5 separate regions of the Homo sapiens genome follow, and all the other regions are linked to region 1. Evidence: fine-mapped expression QTL. A gene starts in region 1. Each other region holds a variant in brackets. All regions are shown on one strand. Distances are between the middles of the regions. Region 1 holds the start of LINC02035 (long intergenic non-protein coding RNA 2035). Region 2 overlaps HSPBAP1 (HSPB1 associated protein 1). Region 3 overlaps SLC49A4 (solute carrier family 49 member 4). Region 4 holds the start of HSPBAP1 (HSPB1 associated protein 1). Region 5 overlaps PARP14 (poly(ADP-ribose) polymerase family member 14).

Region 1 (6,079 bases):
TTCAGATGGAACCTCAAACTTAGGAGAGGATTCCAGGAACTAATACAGAGGCCCGTAGGGGTCCCTTGGAGGGTGTCATCTCTGGCCAGGGGGATGGGAGTGATACAGGCAGTTACATGGCCCTCAGTCTCTCTGATTTACATTTGTTTGTGGTCAGGATTTAGATCACTTTATGATTTTCTGAGGCTCTGACTCGTCAGATACCTTTCTCAACCCTTGGATGAATCTGACCTCAGCTCTGTCCCTGAGACCTTCCACTTTCTTGAACTGACTTTCTGACACAGGCTTCTTCACCCTCAACCCCTCTCCAGGATCCCCAGCAGAAATCCATTCTCATTCCCGAATAGGAAATAAGGCCATACGCTCAGAGTTTCCTCTCCTGAACGAGACGCTAGCAAGCTCAGAACATGAGTAAGCCCAGGTGCTCCAGAAAGATTTAACAGGTCTTCTCACAGCTAAGCTTTAGAAGTTCGAGTATTTCCTTGATATGGGAATTTCAAAGGTCTCTAACAAGTTTCTATAGTTATTACTTGTTGCATTTTTAGAATATGGGCTAATTGCTTTATGTGGTCTTTTGGTTGTGCTCTAGAATCTGATATGCCTCAAACAGTAGCTTTCCATCTTAGCCCACTCTCAAAAAGAGAGAACAAAAAGCTACCCAGCCCCAGCTGTTCTGTTCATTCAACAAGGGAGAATTAAACTTTTTTTTAACCTAGCTAAAAAATGAAAGCATAGAATTGATTTCAGTAGCTTTGATGAAATAATCAAAACACATCAAGCTATTTTAACTCTAAACGTGCTTGCTGGACATAGTACATTGTAAGGCTTGGGACTCCAAAGGGGATACCAGAATATCAACCCAAACATCACAGAACTCTTCGCATTCCCTACTTTATAAATTCTTCTGATTTATAAAGACAGCTTCTGCAACCTTGAACAAAATGGCAAGGATAACTTGGAGAAACTGTCAGTTTACCTTAATGTTAGAAAATGATACTTCTTTTAAAGCACTATTTAATTTAGGCTTCATCTAATTCTAATTGGCTTTCTCATTTACCCAGAAGGATCATAGAATCAAAGAAATGATCTAATTCAGCCACCTCATTTTACAAATCAGTAGAGAACCTTTTAGGTTAAATGACACAGCCAGGTTTTAGCAGATCACTTGGCTCCTAGACCAGCATTCAATCCCTAAATGATCAATGTGTTAGCCATAAGTAATTCTTTTAAGTAATTTTTTTCATTTCTTTTAGAGTTTTGAAAATTACATGAGAAATACATGAGTGTATAACTATTATAAAATAGTACAGGAATAGAAAGTAAAGTCTACCTCCATACAAACATGCTGTTTAATCCATTCTCTCCAGAGGGTATCATCATTCATTCTTTCAGAAGAAACTTGTGTATGCATTTACATATCTATGTATAAAAACTCGGGGGGCATTTAAAATCGAGTCACCTAGGGATCTCTTTCTTGGACCATATTGGTATAAACTTTATGGGCAGAAGCAGAAGTTTCTGAGATCCTTATTTCTCTCCCAGATGAATCTGTCAGATGTAGCATATTGTGGTTAATGTAGGTGTTTCACAGACCTGCTTATGTACCATCAAGCTTTATCATATTCTAAAGTTCAAAAGTGAGTTCCAATATGCATTATTGAGTTGAGTTCCAATATGCACTATTGTGTTTTCTTACTGGAAATACAATTTCTGTTCTTAACACCATCAACTAAGCTCCCTGTACTGTGAGAAAAGAAAGTGAGTAACCGACCTATGAAATCCATATAGATTTCCTCCACAGGACTTTCTTGGCTTCCCTGTCTCTGCAGAGGCACACAATATTATAGAAAACAGAAGCCAAAAGAATAATCTTGTGCAATTTTTTTTTTTTTTTTTAGACAGGGTCTCACTTTGTCATTCAGGCTTGAGTGCCCTGGTGTGATCTCAGCCCACTGCAGCCTCAATCTTCCAGGCTCAAGCAAGCCTCCAGCCTCAGCCCCCCAAGTAGCTGGGACTACAGGTGTATACCACCATGCCAGCTAATTTTTTATATTTTTCGTAGAGATGGGGTTTCACCATGTTGCCCAGCCTGGCTTGTGCAATTTCGTTTTTTGAAAAAATAGCTAATGGAGATTCTGATAATTCTTATTGTTTCCTGGTCAACTTCTGTGTCTTTCCTAATTTTCAAGCTGTCAGTAGAAATGATGAACTGTAGCAGGCCAGAAGCTCAGCTTCATTTGGTCACTTTTTCCTTTCCTGTCTTCTTGCCCATCCAGCTTTCCCCTTTCTGATGGTGTCTTCTTATTTCTGACAATGCTTGGGAGCGAGCTGTGTGACACCCAGATTTTACGAGTTGCCAGCGGTGGAGAGGAGAGAGCCGGGCATGCAGATTCTTCATGGACCCTACTAGAGAGGACAGAGAAAAAGAGCACTGGTGTAGGAGCCCACGGGTCTGGCTCTTAACCCTGGCCTGGTGACTTCAGCTATTTGACCTTGAGCAAGTCACTTCATTTCTCCTTTAGCAACATCTCTAAAATGAGGGAGTGAGCAAAAATGTTCCCTTAGATTTCTTCTAATTCAGAAATACCAGTTGATTCTTATTTAAATATGAACATGACCAAAGCATGTGCAGTCTGTAAAGCTGGAGAGGTGCCCAGCACCTTGGTGTTTCCATTTGTGCGGTAGCCCCCCTCATGTGAGCCCTGTACGTGAACATATGAAATCTTATGCTGCATCCACATTCAATAAGAAGAAATTGCTTTTTCAGTGTCTGTGGGAGGAGATAAGCTGCAGGTGCTGTTTATTTTCCCAAAGGACTTTATATATGAAACACAGGGTTTATTAAATGTATCAAATGCAATAAGAGAAAAATCTGTCATCTGATGTTGAGATAGCATACTGGGAGCCAGGTCGGGGTACTGCATTTGCTCACCAGAATCAGATCAAACGAGATACGAGTCCTTTGGTTTGATTGGATTCATCATGAGGCAGCATGGGTTTGCACTTGTAGAAATCAAAACTGTTAGGTCAGGTAGTAAAGCCAATCCTTGAACTTACATCTTTAGTTAAGGCATCAAAGAATTGTAAGTTGCTTTGCAATGATGCCATCTCCACATGGTCAGATTCTTCCAGTAAACTGTGCAGATATTTTACAGAATAAGAGCTAAGTTTCAGCATGTCAAGGAATGATCTGTACTCAAGTGTTAGTAAACAAGGGTTTTTTTGTTTGTTTGTTTGTTTTGAGACAGTCTCTGTCATCCAGGCTGGAGTGCAGTGGCATGATCATAGCTCACTGTATCCTCAGACTACTGGGCTCAAGTGATCTTCCTGCCTCAGCCTCCTGCGTAGCTAAGACTACAAGCGCATGCCACCACCCCTGGCTAATTTTTTATTTTTTATGGAGAAGGGGTCTCACTATGTTCCCCCAAGCTGGTCTTGAACTCCTGGACTTAAGCAATCCTCCCACCTCAGCTTCCCAAAGAGTTGGGATTAAAGGCGTGAGCCCCCATGTCCGGCCAACAAGACTTCCTCGTGACTATAATGTGAGCATAATATTAATAGCTCTGAGAGAGAGAAGTGAACCAGAAGACCAACCTCAGTGTCAGGAAGTCTGGGCGTCTGTCTTCTGCATGGCTGAAGACATGGGGCTTTGGGCAAGTCATCTGTTCTCTTTGAACTTTGGCTTCCTCACTTCTGAAATAGGAGGGTCAGAGAAGATGTTTCTTTTTGCTGAAAAGTTTTACAGTTCTCTGATCTATACCCCTTGGTCACACACAACCAAAAAGTAGAAAACATGAGTGCAATACTTTTCCACCAGTACTCCCAGTTTATACATTATCTTCTCAAACCAATAAGGAACTTCTACAAGGCCCTGTTAGTGATGTGTTACAGGTGCCAGCATTAGGGAAACTTTCAGACTGTTATATCTATTCGTTCCTTCATCCATGTATACTATTCATTCTGTATGCAGAGTAATTTATATATGTACAATTACATGGCAGTGAAAGATAATCAGAAAAATGAAGTTTTTTTTTTTTTTTTGAGATAGTTTTGAGACAGAGTCTTGCTCTGTTTCCCAGGCTGGAGTGCAGTGGTGTGATCTTGGCTCACTGCAACCTCCGCCTCCCGGGTTCAAGGGATTCTCGTGCCTCATCCTCCCGAGTAGCTGGGACTACAGACATGCGCCACCATACCCAGCTAATTTTTGTATTTTTAGTAGAGATGGGGTTTTGCCATGTTGGCCAGGCCATTCTCGAACTCCTGGCCTCAAGCGATCCTCCTGCCGGCTTCCCAAAGTACCGGGATTCCAGGCATGAGCCACCATGCCCAGTCAGAAGGTTTTTTTTTAAAAAACACACTCCTGAACTAACAATTACAAAGAGCTAGTGACAATTTCCCAAATAATTATGCATAACAGGAGCCCATATATTGTTCTCAAATCATAAACCATAACTGATTTTGAGGAAAAGACATTCTGTCCCACTGATATTCTTTTCATGAGTAAGATCTGGATCTGTCTGGAGGCACAGAATTAATTTTTGCATGAGGAATCCCAACCCTACCATCATTCCATGGCTGAGGAATTGGTTATTACTCCTATGGGAAATTGGGAATGTTGTTGGTACCCCAGCCTTCTCTTAAGACAAAATTTAACAAATGCATACATGCTAAGATGCTTATACTCATAAGGCTTTGTGGGTCTCCTTTCTAAGGGGAATTTGAATACTAACAAGAACAAAGGCTAAATACCAAAAGGGGGCTTTCTAATGGTAGAATTTGGGATATCAGGTAGCCACATAGAGCAGGGCTACTTTGGGGGCTGGAGACTGCAGAAACCCTTCAGTTTATACGTGTGAGTAAACCTAATCACACTTGATGTATTGCTAGTGAAGTCCCAGCCCCCTGAGCCTTTGCAGAAACCCAAAGAATGCTAAAAAGGGCAGGTTTTAGTTCCTGCCAATTATTTCATTTACTACAAATGCCCCGAGTTCCGAATTTACTTCCCTCCCCACCAGAAATATGTCATTTTGGAGGCTTGTGAAAATTAAGCATTAAGAAAATCCCGCCTCCATCCTAATACACTGCATCCACAAGTCCCAAACAAAATCACTTCCTTGGCCTACACACATAACTACCTGTTTCTGTTTAGGTCTGTGACTCAGAAAGTGCCTGGAAGAAGTCATGAGAGGGAGTCGATCCCATCTTACCTGCCATAGGAAGAATAGGGCCTGCTCAGTAGAGTTCAGTGTGTGTGTTGAAGGTGGTGGTTCTTAGTCCTTCCCTGAATTCACTAATTCGCATTGCACTCACTCTTCCTGATCAATGAGTTATTGCTGAGAAATCATTGTAGTAAGTAATACAGGTATCCCCAGTAAAGCCATCCCTCTCCTCCATACCTCCGCTGTCCCTTGGGTTTTGGCTCCAGGATCCTTGCCCCATGTCCCAAAGAATCCCTACCTTGGGCCTCCCTCCTCCTCTTTTGTCAATTGCACTTGACCTTTTCAGGAAAAAGAAATCAATTGATACCTTAGTCCTAATGTTTGACCCTTTTCTATCTCAGAATAGAGAAGTCCCTGTATTTGTTCTTTTTTTACTCAAGTTTAATATAGACCACCTAGGCACAGAAGCTCCGTGCTATATTCTGTTGCCTGTAATTGTCCTTCCATCTAATTGGGAAAAGGTTACTCTATTGAACCATCTGCTGATTCCCTTACCTTTTCACTCTTTTGTCAGTATTCCTTTACCAGTAAATTCTTGGTTATCTAGGTCCTGAAGTTTCATTCATGTTTTTTTTAAAAGCTTTAATTTTTCTTAGGAAAACTGTTTCTCTCATCTTAAAGCAGACTATGATCTTTTCTACTTTGTTATACAATCTGAACATAATGAACACTCTAAAGTCAGGCATGGATTTTATCATAAAAGCAGATCGTATTAAGATTTTTTTAAAAAAGAACCAGGATTGAGGAATCTGTAGCTAATAATTTAATAATTCACCAGCATGTTTTGGGCTCCCACTTCATGCTGGCCACTGGGCTAGGCACTGAGGGTGCAGAAGCAAACAAATCAGCCTCCTGGCCCT
Region 2 (6,079 bases), 130 kb before region 1:
TGATCTCGGCTCACTGCAACTTCTGTCTCCCTGGTTCAAGCGATTCTCCTGCCTCAGCCTCCCGAATAGCCGGGATTACAGGTGCGTGCCACTATGCCCAGCTAATTTTTGCATTTTTAGTAGAGATAGGGTTTCACCATGTTGGCCAGGATGGTCTCGATCTTTTGACCTCATGATCCACCCACCTCGGCCTCCCAAAGTGCTGGGATTACAGGCGTAAGCCACCGTGCCCGGCCTTATGTTACTGTTTTTAAGGACCCAGATTTTCAGTGTTAAGAGAAGAGATAAAAATACAGAAACAAATAAAAAATTCTATCATGTTAAACTTGAATTAGATACTTTTATAGTTCATAAGTCTGATGATTGGGTGTCATGCTCATGTGTGAGACATGCCTCCCTTAAGCCTTGTTATGACGTCAGCATATTACCTGTCTAGATATATTTTTTAAACACATGAATTAGAAATATAAATACATCAATATCTATCTATCTATCTATCTATCTATCTATCTATCTAATCTATCTATCTATCTCACATTCTAGCTACATCACTGAAAGAGCCTAGAAACACTGACACCCAGGAGCAATGAACAGATTTAGAGCTGAGATCTCAGTTTCTAAATGCCATTTCCTACAAAAAGAACTGTGGCTACCTGGAGAAATGATTGACTTCCAAGTGTGGGGCACTAAAGGAGAAAGGGTATCCTGGGATATCTTCCTGTGCCAGAAAGCCAGGATACACTCAAAGTCTAATTAACGGGGACATATCAAAAGGGCACAGGCCAGCTTGAAGTTTCACTAAAATGACAGATAAGACCCAAATTTAAAATTATCTTGTCAAGCTGGAATGCTCAACCAAACCAATATGATGAAAATTAACAGGGATGACTGTGAAATACTGGATTTAGAATTAAAATCAGCTTTATAGGTACAGGATAGGATTCAACCTGCCTGACAGCAGATCATGTGAAAAAAAATCACAGATATTTTAAAGTTGAATATGAAACTAAAGTGAGATGAGATTACTTAAAAAACTAACCCAATATTACAAGCAGCACTGGAGATATTTAGGATCGAGATCATGTGGGGTAGAAATCTTATACTCTACCAAATAAGGCCTACTGATATTCAGTTTTAGGCACTATATATTAAGAGAACTATTCTTGACATAATAGCTCTCCCTCCTCCTCATAGCAATTTCTACTTTTTAAACACTTCCCATATGCCACGCACTATATTAGATGCTTTTACAATGTGTTGTCCAATTACTCTACTGAGGTGGGTTCAATTATAATCCTCATTTTACAAGAAAATGGAGGCTTGAAGAGATTAAGTAATTATCTATGTTAGACAGCTAACAAAGGTAACCTGTATCTTAAAGTTGCCTGATTCCAAAGTCTATGGCCAGAATGGTAAAAAGTCTGGAAAAAGGAAAAAATCACCCATAAAAACACCCCATTAAAGAAAGTAAGAGGTTTTGAGCATGGAAGAAGAAAAGATTATGGAAAAACTTGGAGGTATTTTCAAATATTTTAAAAAGATGACAGCTCTACTCTTTAACAACAAGCGAACTTCCTTGGGAGGTGAAGCACCTGTCAGGGCTATTGTAGATATGACTTTGGCATTGGGAGTGGAAGTTCTCCATGGATTCTACCTTGACATCTGCTGCAACTCCAGTTCAGCATGCTATAGGCGAAATTTCTGTGACGCTACTGATCTCCTGCCATACCTCTCACTTAAGCCTCAAGGGCTACAACTCTTCACTAAGCCCACACAACATAGCTTTCTGTAACAATATTCCTTCTGTTCCACTGATTCCAAAGCCATTCCTATTAGCAAAGGATAGGAAAAACTAGACTAGGGAGAGGATACGGCTGTCAAACAGAGCAGAAAGATGCAATCCAGGCTTCAGGTCAAGGAGAGCAGAGATGCAGTCAGGGCCTCTGGTTAAAGAGAGGCAGCTGCAATTAAGGCCCCAGTTGAAGAGACAGACTTGAGCATAACAAGCAGCTATTCTAATTGTCAAATAGAGCAGGCAACCAGGATTAAGCTTAACACATCAGAGGGAAAGGCTTCTGGCAGAAATGAAATGATAAAAACCTAGCACTGAAAGAAAGACTCCGCTTTGAGAATATGTAGAAGCCAAGACAGAATTCTGCAATTAGTAATGACCCTGAACCAAGAAGCAGGTATTTCCAGCCCAGATGGTGTGAAAGAGGAGCGGCAACAAGGGACACATATCGGCAAATCTGGCCAGGCCCAATACAATTTTCCTAACAACACTGGTCAAGGGAAAGGACCCTGCATGCCAGCATCAGGCGCATTCTGTGTCCTTAAAAGAAAGAGAGTGGCACACCACTAAAATTCCAATTTCCAACCTAAACATCCATTAACAGAAGACAGAATGCATACGTTATAGTGCACTGCAACAAAAAAATACTGAAGCATTGGTTAAAAAAAATTAATTACCCAGTTGTACAGCCAGACCTTATATATCTTTTAAAAGCATGATTTGCACTTACTTAAAAAAAAAAAAAAAACAACGAAAAAGTACCAGTTCAATCCATGAGTTTATACTGACAGTGACAGGATCAATGGATTCTACGTAATGCCACCAGTGTCTGGGAACAAAGAGAACCTGAAAACCAAACAAAGAATGGTTAGCACAAGAACAGGACGTTTCATTTTTATGTCAGAATCAGACCCTAATTGAGGCTGCTAGGAAAAAAAGGAATACAAATGAATTCACAATAATATTGCTGGAGAAAAGTAAAGTAAGAAAAAAAACCCCGCAAACCTTTTTTCCTTTTATTCCTTTTTTATTGACAAGTTCACATGTTCTACAAAGGATACTGCCAGCATCTCTATTCTCTTTAATCCTGGGCCTTCTTTGTCTGCACCTAAATCTTAGTACATGATTCTGAGATTCTAATTTTTCCTCCTTTCCGTCACAAAATAGTTGCGTGCATTCTGAGAAAGGGCATAGGTAAAACACATAGGACGTGGCTTCTGTTTTCTCACAGCTCAAAATCTAGCCAATGAGAAGATAAAGTATAGAAAGGTGGCATTATAGAAGTGGTAAATCAGGGGACAATGGTGTTTCAGAATTTCAGAGGTGGGTGAAACAGGCATGAACTAGGGAGGTCAGGGGCAACATGGA[TGGAA/T]GAAGTGTGATTTGAACCCGGGCTAGGAGAGAATTTAGACACAGAAAGAATGAGGACATGCCAGGAAGGATAAGAGGTACAGGTGAGGGAGGTAGGACTACAGAAGATAGCAAGTAGGTCAGTCTTACTATCACAGAGGGAATAATGGGAGATAAGGTAGGGGAATTAGTTTAGGGACAGCGGACTTCAGAATCTAGATTTTATCTGGTAGGCACTAGGAGTTGTTGAGAAATTCTAAGTAGGGGGATGGTTAAAATAGTGGTATCGAGAGAGTCTGAGAAGGACAGGAGATACTTGCAAAGGTCCACTTATTAAACGTTAAGATATAAATAGGAAGGTATAATAAACAAAAGCAATGGGCAGAGTCAAGAAGGATGGCATCTATCCAGACTCAGTATGAGATTTCCTATTAAGAGCAGAGTAGATGGAAATGATGTGAAGCTTTTGGGCTTCACATTAGGAAACTACTGGTATTTGCTGTGAACAAGGCAGGACTGGGAAATAGAAAGAGAGATCCTTTCAGGAAAACTGGAAACTATAAAAGGCCACTTGATAGTCATTAGTAGGTTATGCATGTCCTATCAGAGTAAAGTTTCAGTAAAGTGGTGACAGAAAGAGCTGGGTTTGAGTGGATTAAAGAATGGATAGGATGTAAGGAAAACTGATACAATAGGCAAAACCAATCACTCAAATTTGGCTATTAAACACAGAAGAGAAAATGAATTGGCAACCACTTCACACTCTCTGGAATGGCTGTAAAAATAATGATAAAAAAGCAAAACAAGTGTTGGGAAAGATAAAAAGAAATTGGAACCCTCATACAATGCTGGTGGGAATGCAAAATAGTACAGCTGCTATGGAAAATAGTTTGACAACTCCTCAAAAAGTTAAACACAGGGTTACCATATAACCCAGCAATTCTACTCCTAGGTATACCCAAGAGTATTGAAAACATATGTACACACAAAACTTGTACATGAATGTTCAAAGTAGCATTACTTATAATAGCCAACAAAGCAGAAACAACCCAAATGTCCATCAACTGATGAACAGATAAACAAAATGTTGTATATCCATACAATGGAATATTATTCAGCCATAAAAAAGAAATGAAGTGCTAGTAACATTCTATGACGTGGATGACCCTTGAATACATTATGCTATGTGAAAGAAGTCAGACACAGAAGGCCCTGTATTATAATATTGCACTGTGTGAAATGTCCAGAATGGGCAAATCTAGAGATAGAAAAAGATTAGTTGTTGTCAGGGGCTGTGGGGAGAGGGGAATGCAGAGTGACTAACAGGTCGAGGCAACTCAGTCAAGTGAAATTGTTTGAGTTGATAGTACTTGAGTGAAGGAAGCAGGAAAAGAGCCAGTGAGACCGGTACAATGGATGGAAGACAGGCAAGGGAGAGGGATAATCGAGAGAATAAAATCTTCTTAAGTGACTAAGAAAACCTTTCAAATTATTAATGAAATATCAGACAGCAAGTGCCAATGTTGAAAAGGAAATTTTCCTCACTGGGAAGCAGCACTATGTACAGTACCTTTGGAAATGTTTCAGAGTTAGTAATTTATGAAAACAACATCCATTTTTGCTTAAAAGCAAACATTCTCGGTTCCTTCTGCCCGTTGGCCCACACCTGGAGGCATTCCGACCTGTGTTTATGTGTCTGGGTTCAGTGCTATCATAATTGAACAGATACTAACTGTGATTAAATGTTCCAGAGATGCTCGAGTACCCATGCCTTGAACATTTTCTCCTGACCTAAATGAAAATGACTCTTGTAGACTGTCTTCCTCCAAAGTCCATTCTCCTCTTTACCAATAGGAGGAGCTGTGTTCCCTCTTGCCATTTCCTTTCCAGGACCTGTGAAGCAGAGGTGTATGTGTCTGAAGCCTACAACTGGGGAAGCTACCTTCCAACAGCAGAGCAGAGGGAAGGAAGCCATTCTCATTTGCACTGCGCAGGGAGGGGAAGCACACAGCATAAGGACTTGAGAGAGTTACAGCTGTGGTGTCCCCTGGCAGGTCATTAATGTTTTAAAGCCCTATTACCTGTCCTGGGCTCAGTGTAACCGCATGTCTTTGAGCTTTCCGGAACTGAGGAAAACGCTTTAAATCAGGATTGACAACATTGATTTTACTGAACACACTAGATTCTTCATAAGGGATTCTAGTTGGATAAAGGAAAGGAGTATCTTCAGGAGGAAAGAGATGCCATCGTTTCCTAATTAAAAAAAAAAAAAAAAGATACAAGTTAGTACTCTGACCTTAAGACAAAACATGGAAGAAGACAAAAGCTAAGTGTTCATTTTTACTTGTTTAAATTCAATCCCTAAGGGAATATAGGCACCATCAGTGGTCACCTGTCCATCTCTGACTCAGCGCTAGAATCCCTCTGCAGATACCGGGTGGAAGGTTGTGTAGCAACTAAGGGGCTGCCTCATGGATGTCTCAGGACATCCATGAGGCAGCCTCTTACATTGCTGGGATAGAATCTAGTTCATAAGATCATTCTTTCTTATCTCAAATCAAAGTCTGCCTTCTCATAAATAGTTTTCATCCCTGACTCTAGAGCTATTCACAATAACCCCCACCCTTTCAAATATCTGTATTCTTATCTTATTCAGAGCAAACACTCATAGTTCTATCCACCAAATAGTTTCCAGACTTCTCCCTGTTTGGGTTATAAATTCCTTAAGTTAAACATTTGTTAAGTTGATCCATTAGGGAGTGGACATGCACAAATAATGCCACATAAATAAAGCAGTATAATATAGGAATTTTCAAAGAAAACTGTTAAAATGTTTGTCATTTAAAACAGTTTTGAAAATGGAGGTAATAAATTCTAACTCACAAAACACTAGACACTCCTATGCTTTATGCCAATAGAGGGAAGACATCTGAGGCA
Region 3 (5,974 bases), 41 kb before region 1:
AGGAGAATGGCGTGAACCCGGGAGGCGGAGCTTGCAGTGAGCCGAGATCGCGCCACTGCACTCCAGCCTGGGCGACAGAGCGAGACTCCGTCTCAAAAAAAAAAAAAAAAAAAAAAAAAAAGATTGCAGATGTTAGATAGCAATAGAGAAGGGTAGACAGGTAGATTGGGGTCATATTATGACGTACTAATAATTTTGGACTATTCTGTAGGAAATCGTGAGTCACTGAAGGATTTTAAGCCAAGAAGTTATGTACAGGATTGTTCTGACAAGGAAAAACAGTTAACTTAAAATTGTCCCCCCAACCCCTTTGACTTGTGTTTACTTCTAATTACCCTAGAGTCAAACTCTTCATTCTGTTTAAACCGTAAAGTGTAAGATCTTCCTTCTCTATAAAGAGTCCTTTTCACCAGTACCTAACATTCCTTTGTCTTTTATTGCTTACTCTGCATGAATGCCAGCTTCTACCTTTGGGCTCTCCAGGGGAGTTCTGTGGGCCTGCCATGCCCCATTCCCTTCCTACCAGTGTAATTACCCCCAGTCTCTCATAGAATTCCTGAAATCATTGCTTTCTGAGTTAATCAGATTATTTGCCAGCACGTAAACACATTTACTCATCTACTTTTTTTACGTTTATATTTCCTTCTCCCATTTCCCTCCCCCAACCCAGGCCACCTCTCAGATGCCTTTAATGTGTATCTCTTTGTCTCTGTGCTTTTGCAGTATGTGTACTGTTTTGTATGCATCTATGTTTAATTCATCTAAATTATGCCATATTGTGCATATCATTCTGTTTGACATTTTTCACTAAGCACTACATGGTTTATTTTTTTTTAACTTTTCATTTGGGAATGTTACAATAATATACAAAGGTAGAATAGTATAACCCCATAAGTCGGTATCAACAATTGTCAGTGAGTTTACAACCAGTCTCGTTTTATCTTTGTACCACCCACTTCCCACTTCCCACCTTCCTGCATCATGAAACAAATCCCAGATGACAACTCCATTTCATCCAGAAATATTTCAATATGTGCAATATATGTCAAAAATAGACTCTTTTTAACATATAGTGCCGTTATTTTAACTAAAAACTTTTAAATAATAATTTGCTAATATCAAATCAGTGTTTAAATTTTCAATTATCTCATAAACATTTAACAGTTTGTTTGAACAGTTTCCACATTAGGGCCACACATTGCAATTGGTCCAAAGTGCCTTAGAATCTATAGGTTTCCTTAACATGGCTCTTTGTTTCTTATAATTTAATTGTTGAGGAGCCAGCACTTTTATTCCCAACATCTGGATTTTGTTGATTTCCTCATTGTATAGTTTGACATGTTCCCCTCTCCTTTATGGTTCTTGTAAAGTATGTTGTGATTCAGGTTTTAGTTTTGCTTTTGTTTTTGTTTTACAAGACCGCTTCGTAAGTGATGCTGCTTCCTTTCATCAGGAGGCGTATAATATCTGGACAACTCTCATTTTGTGATGTTAGCACTCTGTTTCAAGATGCACCCCTGCTGCTGTGTGTACACCTAGTTCTTTGTACTCCATGGTATTAATCTATCACATTTCATCTACTCATTCTCATTGTGTACCCAGATTGCCTCCAATTTATTGTTACCATAAACACTACTGCAGTGACATCCTCATGCACGTCACCATAGACCTGAAAATTTCTTTGGAAAACAGACCCTGTAACATGATTGCTAGGTCATAAAATAGTCTAAGCTTAATTTGTCAAGTACTGCCAGATTGTAGTGATGTGATCATAGCACACAGTAACCACCTGCCTCAGCCTTGCAATTAACTGGGATTACAGGTGCACACCACTATACCTGGCTAATTTTTATATATTTTTTATAGAGGTGAGGTCTCACTATCTTGCTCAGGCTGATCTTGAACTCCTGGCCTCAAGTTATTCTCCTACCTTGGTCTCCCAAAGTGCTGAGATTACAGGCATGAGCCACCATACCTGGCCAGAGCTTTTTTTAAACTACCTACTCATTTGATGAAATAATATTGGTTATCTGTATAATAAACATTGAGAATTTTAAACAATATGAACAAAATATTATTCTTATAAAAATAAAAAATTTCAAGAAGCGAGCCAGGTGCAATGTCTCACGCCTGTAATCCCAGCACTTTGGGAGGCCAAGGTGGGTGGATCATCTGAGGTCAGGAGTTCGAGGCCAGCCTGGCCAACATGGCGAAACCCTATCTCTACTAAAAATACAAAAATTAGCTGGGTGTGCTGGCAGGTGCCTGTAATTCCAGCTCTTTGGGAGGCTGAGGCAGGAGAAGCACTTGAACCCGGGAAGCGGAGGTTGCAGTGAGCAGAGATCACACCATTGCACTCCA[T/G]CCTGGGCTACAAGAGTGGAACTCCATCTTCAAAAAAAAAAAAAATTTCAAGAAGCTTGAATTTATTAACTGACAGATTTTTTTCTTTTATAAAGCTTGCCACTTTGAGCTTCTTGAAGAATATATATATATATATACCTGTACATACACATATTGTACATATATGTGTATATATAGTTATTCATATGTGTATATGTGTGTATATATACATATATATTTTTTAACTTTTAGGCTCAGGGTACGTGTGCAGATTTGTTACATGGGTAAATTCCATGTCATGGGGGTTTGGTGTACAGATTGTTTTGTCACCCAGATAATAAGCATAGTATCCAATAGGTAGTTTTTCTGTCCTCACCCTCCTCCCACCCTGCACCCTCAAGTTGGTCCCAGTGTCTGTTTTTCCCTTCTTTGTGTCCATATGTACTTGATGTTTAGCTCCCACTGATAAGTGAGAACATGTGGTATTTGCTTTTCTGTTCCTGTGTTAGTTTTCTTAGGATAATGGCCTCCTGCTCCATCCGTGTTGCTGCAAAGGTTGTGATCTTGTTCTTTTTTATGTCTGTGGAGTATTCCATAGTGTATTTGTACCACATTTTCTTTATCCAGTCTACCATTTATGGCCATTTAGGTTGATTCCACATCTTTGCTATTGTGAATAGTGCTGCAGTGAATACACTCGTGCATGTGTTTTTATAGTGGAGTGATTTACCCAATAATGGATTGCTGGGTCAAATGGTAATTCTCTTTTAAGTTCTTTTAGAAATTGCCAAACTGCCTTCCATGGTGGCTGAACCAATTTACACTTCAACCAGCAGTATATATGCGTTTCCTTTTCTCTGCTACCTTTCCAGCACGTTTTTTTTTTTTTTTTTTTTTGAGTTTTTAATGCCATTCTGCAGATATTTTCTGATTCTGGTGTTCCAGTTTCCAAATGACATACATTTTTCATGACTAAGTTTATTCTAGATTTTTAATTTGTTACAATGTTTCCTTTTATTTCTCATTCACAGCAATTTTCGATTTTTGATGATTGCTTTAGCATATGCCATACCACTTGGTGTATTTGCTGGCTGGTCTGGAGTTCTGGACTTAATTTTAACACCAGCGCATGTCAGCCAAGTAAGTATTTTATTTCTTTATATGTTGTAGGTATTTTTGTTCATTTAATTTATAAATACTGGTTACGTGTTCTTGGTTTTAGCTTCAAGGACTGGGTAAAACATCGTCCTATACCATTGTTGCAAAAGCAAGATCTTTATGGAATAGGTAAAAAATAATGTTGATTTTCCTCCTTGATTTTGACAATAGTTGTGAATTTCACATTTCTGTGGGCATTATTAATGATACTACTGGTTTTTTAAAAAAGGAAGGAAGTCTTAGTTTTGTTGACCCCATTCTTTATCCTTGCTTCGTACCTTATAAAGAAGATTAAGATCCCATCATCAAATATATAGCTATTTCTTCATCTAGTTTCTGACTTTCTCTCTGGGCTCCAAATAAGGGTATTTCATTTCTTTAAAAATAAACATTTCACCTATATGCTTGATGTCATCCATTCCTTCTCTTTGCTTCCAGATAGCATGGTAGAAAGGAGGAGAGAGAAATTTTGAGAGGTAAATAGAAGAGAACACACTGCTGTGATATTCTATTGTATGAGTAAAAAAAAAAAAATTTGTCTATTCTGCTTTTGGTGAACATTTGGATTGGATTGTTAACCAGTTTTGACAGCCACAAACAATGCTGTATTAACACTCTCTTACATGTCTCTATGCACCTCTATACACATTTCTACTGGATACATATCTAGGAATGGAACTGCTGCGTATAGTATATGCTACTTTGGTAGATGATGCCAAACTTCTCCAAAGTGGTGGTATCCATGTGTAATCCTACCAGCAAAAATTTCTCATCATCCCACATCATTTGCCACTTGTGTGATAATATTAGTCTTTTTCACTTTAGACATGCTGATAGCTGTGCAGTTGTATGCCATCATAGTGACTTCTGTGGTGTCTTTTCAGTGTGAATTGGATATTTTGAATATCTTTTTCTTGTGACATACTAGTTTGAGTCTCTTGCCCACTATTGGGCTGCCTTTTTCTTACCGATACGTAAAGAAGAGGGCTGTGCAGAAGAGGGCTCCCCAGAGGACTTTGGGGGACTCCAGTAATCTTTGGCTGAGAAATGGGCTGCACATATAAAGGGCAAAACTACTGGAGGCTTAACAGAGAGAGTGGTATGGGTTGAAAGCAGAACAAAGATAGAAGACGTCAAGATTGTCTTGGAGTTCTGGCCCAGCCAGAATGGTAACACCTCATTCACACTTGTTAACCAGAATAGCCAAACTGTAGAATCAAGGACCATGCCCTAGGTAGAGGAAGCCTTACTCTAGTGTAGACCCATTATAAACAAAGACAAAAATCTGAAGAGGAGAGAGTTTGGAGATCTATCCTTATAAAGTACAAAATGAGGCCTACACATGCTCAAGGTGATCAACTAGTAATTGAACTGCCTACTAGAACAAAAGCCAGCCATCTTAGAAAAGATAAAAGAATCTAGAATCTCTTTATTGTGTCATCCACAACATACAGTGTACAATTTTTTTTTTTTTTTTTGATGGAGTCTCGCTCTGTCGCCCAGGCTGGAGTGCAGTGGCGCGATCTCAGCTCACTGCAAGCTCTGACTCCCGGGTTCACGCCATTCTTCTGCCTCAGCCTCCCGAGTAGCTGGGACTGCAGGTGCCTCCCACACCCGGCTAATTTTTTTGTATTTTTAGTAGAGACGGGGTTTCACCATGTTAGCCAGGATGGTCTCAATCTCCTGACCTCGTGATCCGCCCACCTAAGCCTCCCAAAGTGCTGGGATTACAGGCGTGAGCCACCATGCCTGGCCCAGTATACAATTTAAAAAAAAGTGCATTAAACATGTAAAGAAACAGGAAAGTATGACCCCTATTTGGCTGGGTGTGGTGGTCTCAAATATAGATACATAAAATTAAAAAAATTAAAAAAGCAATCATTAGAAACCAACTCTTAGATACTCTAGATGTTGGATTTAGCAGACTGAGGCTATAATGCAGAAAAGAGAAAGATAAATCTTTGCTTGCTCCAAGTTCATAAATATGTTATCTTGTACAACTGTGTCATCCTGTATAGTAGCTACTAGCCACATTCAAAATAAACTTCAAACTTAATTGATATTTAAACCAATTGAAATGAAATAAAAGTAAAAAATCACTTCCTTAGTTGCAGTAGCACTTTTCAAGTGCGGGATAGCCACATGAGACTAGCAGCTACCATGTTGCACGGTGTAGATAGAGAGCATTTCTATCATCAAAGAAAGTTCTGTTGGACAGTGCTGTTCTGGAGCTCTGTTCTTTTACCTGTCACATTTACCTAGAATTTAAACCTAGAATTGATTTTATATTTATTATAGGCGTTAAGTTTCTTTTTTCCCCATAGATATTTGTTAACCTAATATCAGTGTTTGAAAAGATCATTTTTTTTCTTCACTGCCCTCTATTCATCTTTGTTGTAAGCAAGTCTCCTTATATACACTGGTGTATTTCTAGACTTTATTCCTTTAGTCTGTTTGTCTGTCCCTGCACCAATAC
Region 4 (6,079 bases), 91 kb before region 1:
CATCCAGAGTAAGAGTTTTGTCAGAAAAAAGTGCAGGAAGGGACAAGAGAATTTTTCAAAGGAACGACATACATTCTGGATAAGGGGGTGCAGTGGATAGAAAATGGAAAGATCAATGCAATGGAGGTATAGATGAAGGTCAAGAATTGTCTCCCTGGTAGAAAGTGGTCAGATAGTAGGAGGCTATAATTTGTTTCTTCTGCTTGGAATGGGCATCTCCCCCTTCAGCAAACTGTTTGACCCCTAAATACATCCATCCTTTTCTGCTCCCTGACTTCCTGAACCCCAGCACCACTCCCTGAGTTTGTCACCATCTCATCCAATCAGAAAGGCCCACCTCAGCGGATCACAAGGTCAAGAGAGCGAGACCATCCTGGCCAACATGGTGAAACCCCGTCTCTACTAAAAATACAAAAATTAGCTGGGCGTGGTGGCACGCTTGTAGTCCCAGCTGCTTGGGACGCTGAGGCAGAAGAATTGCTTGAACCTGGGAGGTGGAGGTTGCAGTGAGCCAAAATCGCGCCACTGCACTCCAGCCTGGTGACAGAGCGAGACTCCGTCTCAAAAAAAGAAAAAAAAAAAAAGAGAGAAAAGAAAAAGAAAGGCCGACCTCAAACTATTCGCTCCTTGAAGCATTTATGTTCTCCCCACTGAGATCCCTCCTCCTAACAACCCTCACAGAGTGTACTACTGGTAGAATAGTTCAGGTGACCACATAGTAAGTCATTCTTTTTCCTTTCTAGGCTCCTTTGGAAAAGGTATTGTTATAAATATTCAAAAGTCTCTGGATCCTGCGACAGTATTCAGAACACAGCCCTGCACGGTGCAATCATTCAATAAATAATAACAGGGATCTCAGGCTCATGGGCCTCCAAACCTCATCCCCACTTGCTAAACCAGGGTTCACTGAAATAGAATAAAAGCGCATAATCCCTGTTCACAAAAGTCTCAGATAACTTCCATTAATCTCAAAGGTTGCCTTCAATTTCACAAATTTAATTTTAATCCCCTCTAAACGTTCAAAACACCTCTATTTAGCTAATGATGGGCAAATATAAAACAAAACAAAACAAAAATAACACCCCATGCGTGAAACAGCACTCGTAGGCTACCCTACGACGATCAAAAATCTGGATGCCACAATTCGAGAAATGCCACGCTCACTAGAAAATATAGATTTTTCTTCATAGTCTAATGCAAGGCCAGAGAGACCTGGGTTGGGGCTAAGGCAAACGGCCCCACGAGGGGTGCCACGAGAGTCAACTGGCATTGGGTTTGTACTCAGGGTCGGACCTCAGCCTGGCACCTACCTTCCTCCCCTCCAGCCCCAGCCGCAACGATCACAGGAGTGGTCGCCTCGGAGCCTGCTGCCATGGCTACCGCAAGGCGGGTTCTGCCGGAACCCAAGGCGGAGCGGAGCTGGGGTGGGGTCAGAGTAGGGGCCAAACTCCGAGACCCGAAGCTGCACCACAGGAAGGAGCCCCGGCGACTCCCGCCCGGCTCCTACGGAAACGCCGGCTCTCACGTGGAGGTCACGTGACGGATGCTGGGCGGGACCACGCAGCTTTGTTTTGATACCCCGGGTGTGGAAATACAAACACGTGGTCTGAGTTGTGGCGCTTTTTACCTAACCCGGACCTTAGCGTTCTTTATTGTAGTCTTAGCTTCGTTTCTGTTTCTCCTTTTCTAGTCAGATCCTTCCTTTCCACCTCGGCTTTTCTCCACCCTAAAGGATTGGAGTTTTAGGGGAAGGTTTGCCGCTTAGTGGGGCTCCGGCGGTGGGATGGGTCTCTGCCGTGAGCTTTCGCGAGCCGCTCTTGGCAGCCTGGAATGCGAGGCTAGCTCACGCTTCTCTTACACCTCTCTTGCCCTTCTGGTGGTAACCTGACTCCTTCTGATTTTAGTGGCTGCCGGGAAATACGAACCTCGGGCAAAGAATCCTGTGATTGCGTTCCCTGTGACTCATTTCCCGATCCAGACAAGCCAAATTGCTTGACTTTAGGTTTTCAAGGACACTAATCCACAGCTGTCAGGCTTCTGAATTTGTATACCAAAATAAACAAACAGCTGTGTGAAGAGATCAACAACCACCTTTCTTCTCGTTTACCCTGTGGTCAAATCATAATCACTGGAGATGGATCTTTGGGGCAAAAATCTTCCAACTTTACTGGACATACCTTTATTGCTCGCCTATTGGCAGGCGAAATGGGTAAAGTTTACATATATATGAATGAAATTGGCTAGTTTGGAATCTCCTCTTTGGATATGTAAGACAAAAAAGTAACAAAAATAGGTAGTACTTATTGCACGTAAGAAATGATTTTTATGAGATAATCCCCTGGGACCAACTACGCTTAAACTTTATCCTTCGCCTATAATTTCTGAAGTTACTAACTCAACAAAAATGAGAATAAGCCCAAAATAGAAGCAAGCATCAGGTTAACTGACGTCACTTAACAGGTCACTGAGTTGTTTATTAGGCACAAGATTTAACTTGGACACTTCCTCCAAACACCCCAGGGTTCCTTGCCCAACCTCCTCGAATACAGCCTCTCTGGGAGTTTCCCTCTCCCCGACTCAGCCGCGCTGGTCCCTGCCTTTTCAGCGCTACCTGCCCTCCGTCTGGGACCTGGCTCCTTTCCTCTCGCCGGTGTTTCCTCGCCACCCGCGGAGGGGAGGGCGGACCCCAGCCTCCTTGCCGCCTGCCCCGCCTCCCCGCCTCCCCGCCGGCCCGGCTCGGGCCGCGCAGGCGCACCAGGCGCGGTCCGGAGGCCGAGGGCGACCACAGCAGCCTCCGCCTCCTGCTGCTCAGGACTATTCTGCGCTGGGCTAGTCGGCGGTGACCCGGACTGCGCCCGGCAGTGGCTTCGCGGGCGACGCGTCGCCATGGGCTCTCGCTGGAGCAGCGAAGAGGAGAGGCAGCCGCTGCTGGGGCCCGGGCTCGGGCCTGGGCTGGGGGCCTCCTGGAGAAGCCGGGAGGCGGCGGCGGCGGCGCTGCCCGCGGCGGTCCCGGGTCCCGGGCGGGTATACGGGCGCCGCTGGCTGGTGCTGCTGCTCTTCTCGCTGCTGGCGTTCGTTCAGGGCCTGGTCTGGAACACCTGGGGTCCCATCCAGAACTCGGCGCGCCAGGCCTACGGCTTCTCCAGCTGGGACATCGCGCTGCTCGTGCTGTGGGGGCCCATCGGCTTCCTGCCCTGCTTCGCGTTCATGTGGCTCCTGGACAAGAGAGGTGAGGGGTCGCGGAGCGCCAGCCCGCGCTGTCTCTCCTCCGGGAGCAGGCGCCTGCCCGCGCTCCAGGCCTGCCAGCCGC[C/T]TCCCTTGGCCCCGGCATAGGGGTTGTGTGAGGTGATAGAGTGTTGCTAGCATTCCATTTCTGACTTAGGAACCCTCCGTCCCCAAAGCGACAAATATGGAAAGGCAACCTTGCAAATATTTATGTTTTTTATCAAGGCCCTTTATGCAACACCAGGGATTTAAGCGATCTCTAAACGTTCAAGTTTTTACACATTGTGAACATCAGAGCATCCCCGTGCACGTGCGGTGTATGTGTTTTACACCTGACAAAAATGACTGATGCTTTGACTTCAAAGGGATATGGGGATGTTGAGGATGAAAGGTCGGAAAATAGATTGACGGTGCCCATATGTAAGGAAATAATGAGTTCGTTTTGTGTAATAGATGACTCCAGCCCAGGAAGAGCTATTGGGAAACTCAGATCTGACACTTTGGTTTCTGGAAGGTGGTGCTCGGCAGCTTTAAAATGTGTGTATGTGACTAGATGGCTTTCTCAGTTGAGATTTGTGACTTTCAATTAAAGCTTGCAGATGAGTGAAGATGCTTGCTTAGAATGGTACCCTGGACATCTCACTTTACCACTTGCCAGTGTGATTCTCTGAGAAGAAAAAGCCATAGGGCTGAGAATCAAGGCATACTTACCACATAAGTATGGATAAATGATTAGTAGTGACAGTCTACCCTCAAGAGGCTGTTGTGCAAGATTTTATATTTATTAATTGAATAATGCCTGGGAGCTACTTTGTACAGTTTCTGTTCAACCTTTTATAAGTTTTGTTGCAATGAGTTCTTTAGTCAGATTTGGAAGGTTGTCTTAGTCCACTGGAGCTGCTATAACAAAATACCATAAACTGGGTAGTTCATAAACACAGAAATTTATTTCTCACAGTTCTGGAGGCTGGGAAGTCCAAGATGAAGGCTCAGGCAGAATCGGTGTCGGGTGAGGGCCTGCTTCCTACACAGTGGTCTCTTCACTATAACATAAGATGGAAGAAGGGGTTAGGGAATCCCTCTGAGGTCTGTTTTATACGGGCAGTAATCCTATTCACATGGGTTCCACCCTCATAACCTAATCACCTTCCAAAGGCTGCACCTTCTTATTCCATCATTTTGAGGGTTAAGATTTCAAAATGTGAATTTGAGGCCTGGCGCAGTGGCTCAAGTAATCCCAGCACGTTGGGAGGCTGGGGTGGGAGGATTGCTTGAGCTCAGGAGGTCGAAGCTGGAGTGAGCTGTGATGGCACCACTGCACTCTGCCCTGGTCAACAGGGCAAGACTCGTCTCAGAAAAATTAATACATAAACAAAATATGAATTTGAGGGGAACACATTCAGACCTCAGCAAAAGTCAAGTGTAGGTAGGTATAGAATTGCAATTGTCTGGCATGTAGTTAGCACTCAAAATTAGTTGGTTATTAAGAGAATAGAATAGCAGGGTGATGTTAGTAGTTATACTTCCTTCTCTCCTCCTTCACTGGAATTCCTTCATTGGAATCCATGTGAAAAAGACTAAGGAATAGTTGATTGTGAATTCCTTAATGATCAACAATATAATGTAGCTGCTAAAAAAGAAAGGACAGTTTAGGCATAGAAACATAGTGTCCAAAACAAGAAGCAAAATAGTTTGATAGGCTCTACATTAGTGTTTAGTTCTGAGCTTGATTCTGAGAAGGCCATTTGACAAACTGCAGAACTTTAAAGGTTCTGCGACAAGAATGATAAAGGGTATAAAAATCATGATGTGTAAAATGAAGGGAACTTGTGTGTATCACACTTCAAAAAGAAACTTGAGGCAAGATATAGACTATGTGAAGATCAAGTCAAAGAGGAATTCGACTTATGTGTTGTTCTAGGAGGAAGAACTAGACTGAGTCAAGTTACAAAGAAATGTAACTCAAAGCAATACAAGGAAGAACCTTCTAACAAAGATACCCAGCCCTGAATGGGTGTGTCTTGACTGCTGTAGAACTTCCAGCTAGAGCAAATACTTTTGCAGAGGATGTGTGCTAGATGCCGAAGAAGGGCTTCTCCTACCAAAGGGAGATTTTCTTTGGGTTATTGTTGTTTGCTTTTAAACTAAATATTGATTTTCTCTGGGTTTCTGCTGGGCTCAGTGGCTCATGTTTGTAATCTCAGCACTTTGGGAGGCTGAGGCGGGTGGGTCACTTGAGCCCAGGAGTTAGAGACCAGCCTGGGCAACATGGTGAAACTCCAAATCTACAAAAAATACAAAAATTAGCCAGACATGTTGGCATGCGCCTGTAGTCTTAGTTACTGGGGAGGCTGAGGCTGGAGGATCAGTTGAGCCCAGGAAGTAGAGGCTGCAGTGAGCTATGATTGCTCCACTGCACTCCAGCCTCAGTGACAGAATGAGACCCTGTCTCAAAACAAACAAACAAACAAACCCAAAGTAGTACTTTACCTATAATCAATGTTACAATAATATTTTTTTAAAAAGAAAAAAGATTGTATTTGTTTCCACTGATGTATTTTTCTTCTGTTCCAGGATTCGGTCTAGGGTCCTCTGTTACATTTAGTTGTAATTTCTCTTTAGTTTCCTCCAATCTGTGATAATTCCTTGGTCATTCCCTTAACAAGGTTGGCTAAATTCAGGGGAAAATGCTGTGTTATAGTTTCTTTTTATTTTTATCAGGAGCATTTTTCAATATTATTCCCCAAATTTAGCCAACCTTGTTTTTTATGGTAGAAAAATGTTAATTTGCACCCTTCTTATTATAATTGTACCTACTATCCATGGCAGGATAAATTAGAAACTACCCATTCACTTT
Region 5 (6,079 bases), 180 kb before region 1:
ATTATTATTATTCTCACTTTACAGATGAGGGAGTGAGACTTAAAGGGGTTAGGTAATTTGCCCACATCCCCCAACTAGCAAATGGTAGAGCCAGGATTGGAATTTGTTCAGGCTCTTAACCATTGCACTCTTTCAAAATGTTAAAAATAATGTTGTGTCTCATTTTAAAAAATTAAATAAAAACTCTTTGGACCAAGCATCAGTTATGGGAATGAATTTCATTCCTTGTCTCTTTTGACACCAAATATCAAGACATTCTTTCCCAGCTAGGCATGGTGGCTCATACCTGTAGTCCTTACTACTCGGAATGCTGAGGTGGGAGGATCACTTGAACCCTAGGAGTTTGAGGCTGCAGTGAACTATGATCATGCCACTGCCCTCCAGCCTGGGTGGACAGAGCAAGACCCTCTCTCTTAAAAAAAAAAAAAAAAACAAAAAAAAAAAACAAAAAACAAAAAACAGTCATAGTTTGCTTTCCTTTCACTCCCATAGATGCTTAGCTTCCATGGCTGTAATAACTGCTCTGCATTACTCCTTAGTGACCCAGGCAGGGCAGCTTTGAAAATCACTTGGTTACATTCCCTCTCCTCTGTTCTCTTGACCTCTCTAATCTAGCCCGATTAATCTGCTCACATTCACTGATGAAAAAGCTTCCGGGGCTGCTCCCTTTCTGTCAGGGAGTCCAGATGTCTTGGCACTCGAGGTGGGCCCCCTAGTTTACCCCCAGTGTAACATTTCTAGCCTGGAGCATACCATTTTGCTGCAGAAGCTCTCTCAGATCAAATTAATCTGTTCACAGCTCACAACCCACCATGCCTATGTTCATGCTGCTCCCTGTCTTGCTCTGCCTGCTGAAATTCTTCCCATTTCTCAAACCCCACATTGCCCATGGTATCTTCACTAGTTACTGAAACAGCTTTCTCTGGACTCCTTCAGTGATGCCATACCATTCATAGATTACTTTTTGACTGCTCTCTTTTTTTCCTAAGTGTCACTTCAATAAGTATTTAGTCACACTTTGTCTTATGTTGATATTTCAATCACTGAAACCGTAGTCATCTTAGTTGTCTCCAATTGTGCCAAGCCCAGTGCCTCAAATATAGTAATCATTGATGAATGCTTTTTGTTAAAATTTGAAACAAATTTTTGGTTTTGTCTTTAAGACCGATGTTGTTGTCAACTCCGTTCCCTTGGATCTCGTGCTTAGTAGAGGGCCTCTTTCTAAGTCCCTCTTGGAAAAAGCTGGACCAGAGCTCCAGGAGGAATTGGACACAGTTGGACAAGGGGTGGCTGTCAGCATGGGCACAGTGCTCAAAACCAGCAGCTGGAATCTGGACTGTCGCTATGTGCTTCACGTGGTAGCTCCGGAGTGGAGAAATGGTAGCACATCTTCACTCAAGGTTGGGCCTGGTTTTGAATTCTCCATGAAGTTGGGTAGCCCTTTGGGTTCTCCTTTTAGTAGCATATTAATTGGACATAGATTGGGCCTTGTCTGTTTCTCTTCCATAATAATCACTCTTTTGGCAGATTCCATCATGTGGCCATTTCTTTCAGCTGTAGCTGACTTCTCCTGAGGACTAGTTAATACTATAAATGGATTATTGTGCTCAATAATTATTGGAGCTCAGGGAAGGGTTACTGAAGATAATATTATTGCTTGCTTAGTGAAGAAAGCCAGAGGAGGGTGTGAAGAATGGAAGAGAATGAAGGAAAAGAACAGTAGTTGCTTTGCTTCTTTCCTTCATTGTGAATGTGTTTAAGTCTCTCGCATTCTCTTTTCCTTTTCCTTGCCTTCTCCTGTATTTTTCTTTCCTCTTCTGATTGCCCTTAATCAGTGTTGACAGCAAAAAGGAGTATTCAAGTTCACAAAGTTGCTAAATTCTTGTCCTTTTTGTTCTAACTCCCATTTCTAGACAAGATGTATAAGGATGTGCTTTGTGCGTTTCAGATAATGGAAGACATAATCAGAGAATGTATGGAGATCACTGAGAGCTTGTCCTTAAAATCAATTGCATTTCCAGCAATAGGAACAGGAAACTTGGGATTTCCTAAAAACATATTCGCTGAATTAATCATTTCAGAGGTGTTCAAATTTAGTAGCAAGAATCAGCTGAAAACTTTACAAGAGGTTCACTTTCTGCTGCACCCGAGTGATCATGAAAATATTCAGGTACAGTGCCACTAATTTCTGATTATTTTGGCAACTGAGACCTAGTGTTTTTTCAAATGTCTTTTTGGTCTAACAGGATACTTTTTTCATTCATTTCCCCATTCAGGAAAGTAAGAAGGTAGTTTATACTTGTAGTTGTAGTTGTAGCATGACAAATTTTAAGAAAAGTTACAGATGTAGAAAAAATTTAACTTCCTATTCAGGAAAATTTTGAACATATCCAAAAGTAGACATAATAGTATAATGCAGTCCCTTGTACCTATCACTGAACTTCAACAGTTATCAACCTATGGCCAATATGTTTCATCTCTATCTTCATCTATTTCCCTTCCTTCTATATT[C/A]TTTTGAAGCAAATCTCAGACATATCATTTTATCCATAAACAATTCAACATTTATTTTAAACAATAACAATTCTTTTTAAAAAAGTAACATAACCACAATATTGTATCACACCTAAAATAAATGGACAATAATTCCTTTAACCAATTATCAAATCAATTCTCAAATTTCTGACTATCTCATAAACGTTTTGTTTTTACAGCTTTGTGTTTGAATCAGAATCCAAATAAGGCCCACATATTGCAATGGAGTTGACTATAGGATTTCCCTCCATATGGACATAGAAATTTTAATACATAGTATAAAAGCACAGTCTGGCCTTATCAATAGGAAGATGTCAGAAGGTGTGGTTAGAATGGATTAGCACATTCCCATGTAAATAGGAGAGTTGGGACCAGAAACACCAGAACTATCATCAATCATGAGTTCATGATTCAGCTCACATCAGCTGTGGGAGAGCCACTGGACTCAGCATTATGGCAGCACAACAGGCTTTTAAGCCATTATCCCTGCACTCCGAGTCTTTACTTAATCAAATAAAGTAGATGACATTCAGTGTTTGAAAAGCTCCCAAGGTACTGCAAAAATTGATCAAACAGATTAAGATCAGCAACCCAAGAGATACCTGTGGATCATTGGACCATCTGAATTTTTAGGTAATGCTTCATTTTTCTGTGATGCTAGATACTACCTATAAGTTCTTTGGAAGCAAGTAAATCTGACCTGAATTCTGATCAGGCAGCCAAACCACCTGAGTAAAATATGTGGTCCATTTACTTGTCCCGTATAATTAGTTACTCTTCTGTGCAACAGAAGCTTTTAAAATAATTTCCCTATGACTTGCATTGTGCAAGGTGATGTGGATCGTGGAACAGGACGAATAGGAATAGCACATACTTTCCCTCCTATAAATCACAATTACTTTGGAGCTAAGATTTATATACACAAAATGAACTAAATGAGAGGCATGAAGTGCTGTTTTTGAATGCATGGGTGATTGAATACAGCATGAGTCCTGTGACACAGACCTGAACCTTCAAATATCACTCTTTTTCATGCAACCTCAGCATTCATTTTCTTTCCTGAAGACTGAGTATTTTTCAAATACTCTGTAAAAAGAATTAGTCTATACAGATGCCTTTAGTACCATTTGAAATTCTCTGTATGTGTCTGTTACACTTTTTCTCTTTAGACTTTTAAAGACAGTTAAACTTTGGTTACATTTGCACAAAAAAATCAGCAAAGCTTATCGAGATGTTTATAGATGGAGACTGTCACAGAGGATGCAAAGCAGCAGTCCTGTGATTTGAACATGGCCTCTAGATGTGCTTTATTTAGATTATTAAAAAAAAATTTCAATCAGTTGCTAACATTTAAAAATCAAAAATTTTACATAAAACTCTAGATATTCACTACAACCTAAAACTTCAAAACTTCTGGCACATTAAACATGGCTTCCTGCTTGGGACAGGAAGTTTTCCATGGCTGAGTGGCAGGTGTTCTCTAGTTCTCCATAGTCAAATCAGACCACCTTTACACATGTGCCTTACCTACCTGGCTCCTAGAAGCCTGTGAGTCTGAGATCTTTGCTCTACCCTCTCTCTGGTTCCTTCTCCCATTATTGCATCTATCTTTAGCCAAGATGTTACTTGTTTTTTTTCCAACAAAATTATCTGTTGCTTGTTTACAAGGAGGAAGAAAATGATGATTATGGAGGGTCACCAACAGGCAAAAAAAAAAAAAATGAAATTCACAGGTTTATTAACACTAGAATACATACACCAGCTACTTGCTCCAAAAATCATGACTCCTCAGCCCCTCCTCTTTTGGTACAAATAGGAAATTAAAAACGGAAGTGTTTGGGACCTTGTGATGGTCATTCTCTTAACATTGTAGTTTTTACAATTGGCAAGTTATTTGCTTTGACTGACCATTATGGTAATTCATGTTCATTGTAGAAACTTTGAACAATGCAAAATGCATAAATTCTTTAGTTGGATTTTATTCCAGCCTGCTTTTTTTTACATATGTACTTTTAAAAGTGGGATTGGCTCGGAGCGGTGGCTCATGCCTGTAATCCCAGCACCTTGGGCAGCCAAGGCAGGCAGATCACCTGAGGTCAGGAGAACAGCCTGGCTAACATGGTGAAACCCCGTCTCTACTAAAAATACAAAAATTACCTCCCAAGTAGGCTGAAGCAGGAGAATCACTTGAACCTGGGAGGCGGAGTTTGCAATGAACCAAGATTGTGCCACTACACTCCAGCCTGGGTGACAGAATGAGACTCCATCTCAAATAAATAAATAAATAAATAAATAAATAAATAAATAAAGGATTGTGATTATAAATTATTTTATTTAATATCCTTCGCTTTTATTTTCTATTTCACTAAATCTTCTTTGAGGCTGGGCACAGTGGCTCACACCTTTAATCCCTGCACTTTGGGAGGCCAAGGCAGGAGGATCACTTGAGGCCAGAAGTTCAAGACCAGCTTGAGCAACATAGGGAGATCCTGTTTCTACAAAAAACAAACAAACAAAAAAACACAAAAAACAAAAAACGTAGCTGGGTGTGGTGCCATATACTTATAGTCCCAGCTACTTGGGAGGCTGAGGTGGGAGAATTGCTTAAGCCCAGGAGGTCGAGGCTGCAGTGAACTGTGATCACGCCTCTAGCATTCCAGCCTGGGCGACACCCCAGCCTGGGCAACACAGCAAGACCTCATTTAAAAAATTCTTTGAAAATACGATTTTTAATGGCTAATAAATACTCCAACACATGGATACAGCAACATTTATTTAACTTTTTCCCTGTTGAATTTTTAACTGTTTTTTCTCTGTTATGAATAGCACTGTAGTGAATATCCTTGTATTTATCCACATCGTTGTCCACATCGTTGATATTTTCATTAGACACATTTATAGAAACAGAATCATGTGTTGTTTTTATAACTTTCAAGATCTGCAATGAAATTAAATAATACTGTTTGAGAATGGTTATCTCCCAAATATGTATGTGTGCATGCAGGACAAAACACCCTGATGATTCCAATTTATTCATTTACTGAGGAGTGTAATGATCAACGCTGTGTTTATATTTCAGGCATTTTCAGATGAATTTGCCAGAAGGGCTAATGGAAATCTCGTCAGTGACAAAATTCCGAAGGCTAAAGATACACAAGGTTCAGTAAAGCTTCTAAATTGAGAAGTGATTTCTAGTTGCTAAGTAACTGTTCATTGGCAGGTAAAAGACAGTAGTGATAATTTTTATGAAAAAAAAATCAATGAGTGACAAATGATACTAAGTTATGTTTCATATACCTGAGCATGTAAGACACTGGTCATGTTTATATAATCTGAAGCAAAAGGGAAGGCAGGCCAAGTTATGTAATCTGTATAATGGGTTTTAAGTAATGACAAGACTACCATTTCCTGAGGAGAATGTGACATGTATTTTCCAAAATAGACAAATTTGAGAGACAATACTCACCAAATCTTTCACCTTTGTCAAATTTGTTGATGCCATATTTGAGTTTATCCTGTTTGAGTTTCACCGAGGCTTCTTGAATAT

The links. PIP is the estimated chance that this variant, and not a neighbour inherited with it, causes the effect.
Region 2: its variant is fine-mapped to the expression of LINC02035 in testis (GTEx, PIP 0.99).
Region 3: its variant is fine-mapped to the expression of LINC02035 in lung (TOPMed, PIP above 0.99).
Region 4: its variant is fine-mapped to the expression of LINC02035 in whole blood (TOPMed, PIP above 0.99).
Region 5: its variant is fine-mapped to the expression of LINC02035 in whole blood (INTERVAL, PIP 0.93).

What each region holds. Positions count from the first base shown.
Region 1 is chr3:122,883,554-122,889,632 of GRCh38, forward strand. LINC02035 (long intergenic non-protein coding RNA 2035) reads left to right here and starts at 2,960. Exons shown (of 1, transcript NR_024618.1): 1 at 2,960-6,079.
Region 2 is chr3:122,750,037-122,756,115 of GRCh38, forward strand. HSPBAP1 (HSPB1 associated protein 1) reads right to left here. Exons shown (of 8, transcript NM_024610.6): 5 at 5,224-5,395; 6 at 2,555-2,638. It overlaps LOC124906363 (small nucleolar RNA U13), which reads left to right and starts at 336; the gene lies at 336-439. The variant TGGAA/T (reference allele first, on the strand shown) is at 3,161.
Region 3 is chr3:122,842,392-122,848,365 of GRCh38, forward strand. It overlaps SLC49A4 (solute carrier family 49 member 4), which reads left to right. Exons shown (of 9, transcript NM_032839.3): 5 at 3,372-3,480. Among named protein-coding and RNA genes, the nearest start is that of LINC02035, 41 kb to the right of the region's middle. The variant T/G (reference allele first, on the strand shown) is at 2,362.
Region 4 is chr3:122,792,307-122,798,385 of GRCh38, forward strand. It overlaps HSPBAP1 (HSPB1 associated protein 1), which reads right to left and starts at 1,525. Exons shown (of 8, transcript NM_024610.6): 1 at 1,311-1,525. The coding sequence starts at 1,374. SLC49A4 (solute carrier family 49 member 4) reads left to right here and starts at 2,763. Exons shown (of 9, transcript NM_032839.3): 1 at 2,763-3,229. The coding sequence starts at 2,887. RefSeq lists a silencer at 2,600-3,089. The variant C/T (reference allele first, on the strand shown) is at 3,311.
Region 5 is chr3:122,702,579-122,708,657 of GRCh38, forward strand. PARP14 (poly(ADP-ribose) polymerase family member 14) reads left to right here. Exons shown (of 17, transcript NM_017554.3): 7 at 1,164-1,400; 8 at 1,949-2,170; 9 at 5,612-5,690. Among named protein-coding and RNA genes, the nearest start is that of PARP14, 25 kb to the left of the region's middle. The variant C/A (reference allele first, on the strand shown) is at 2,512.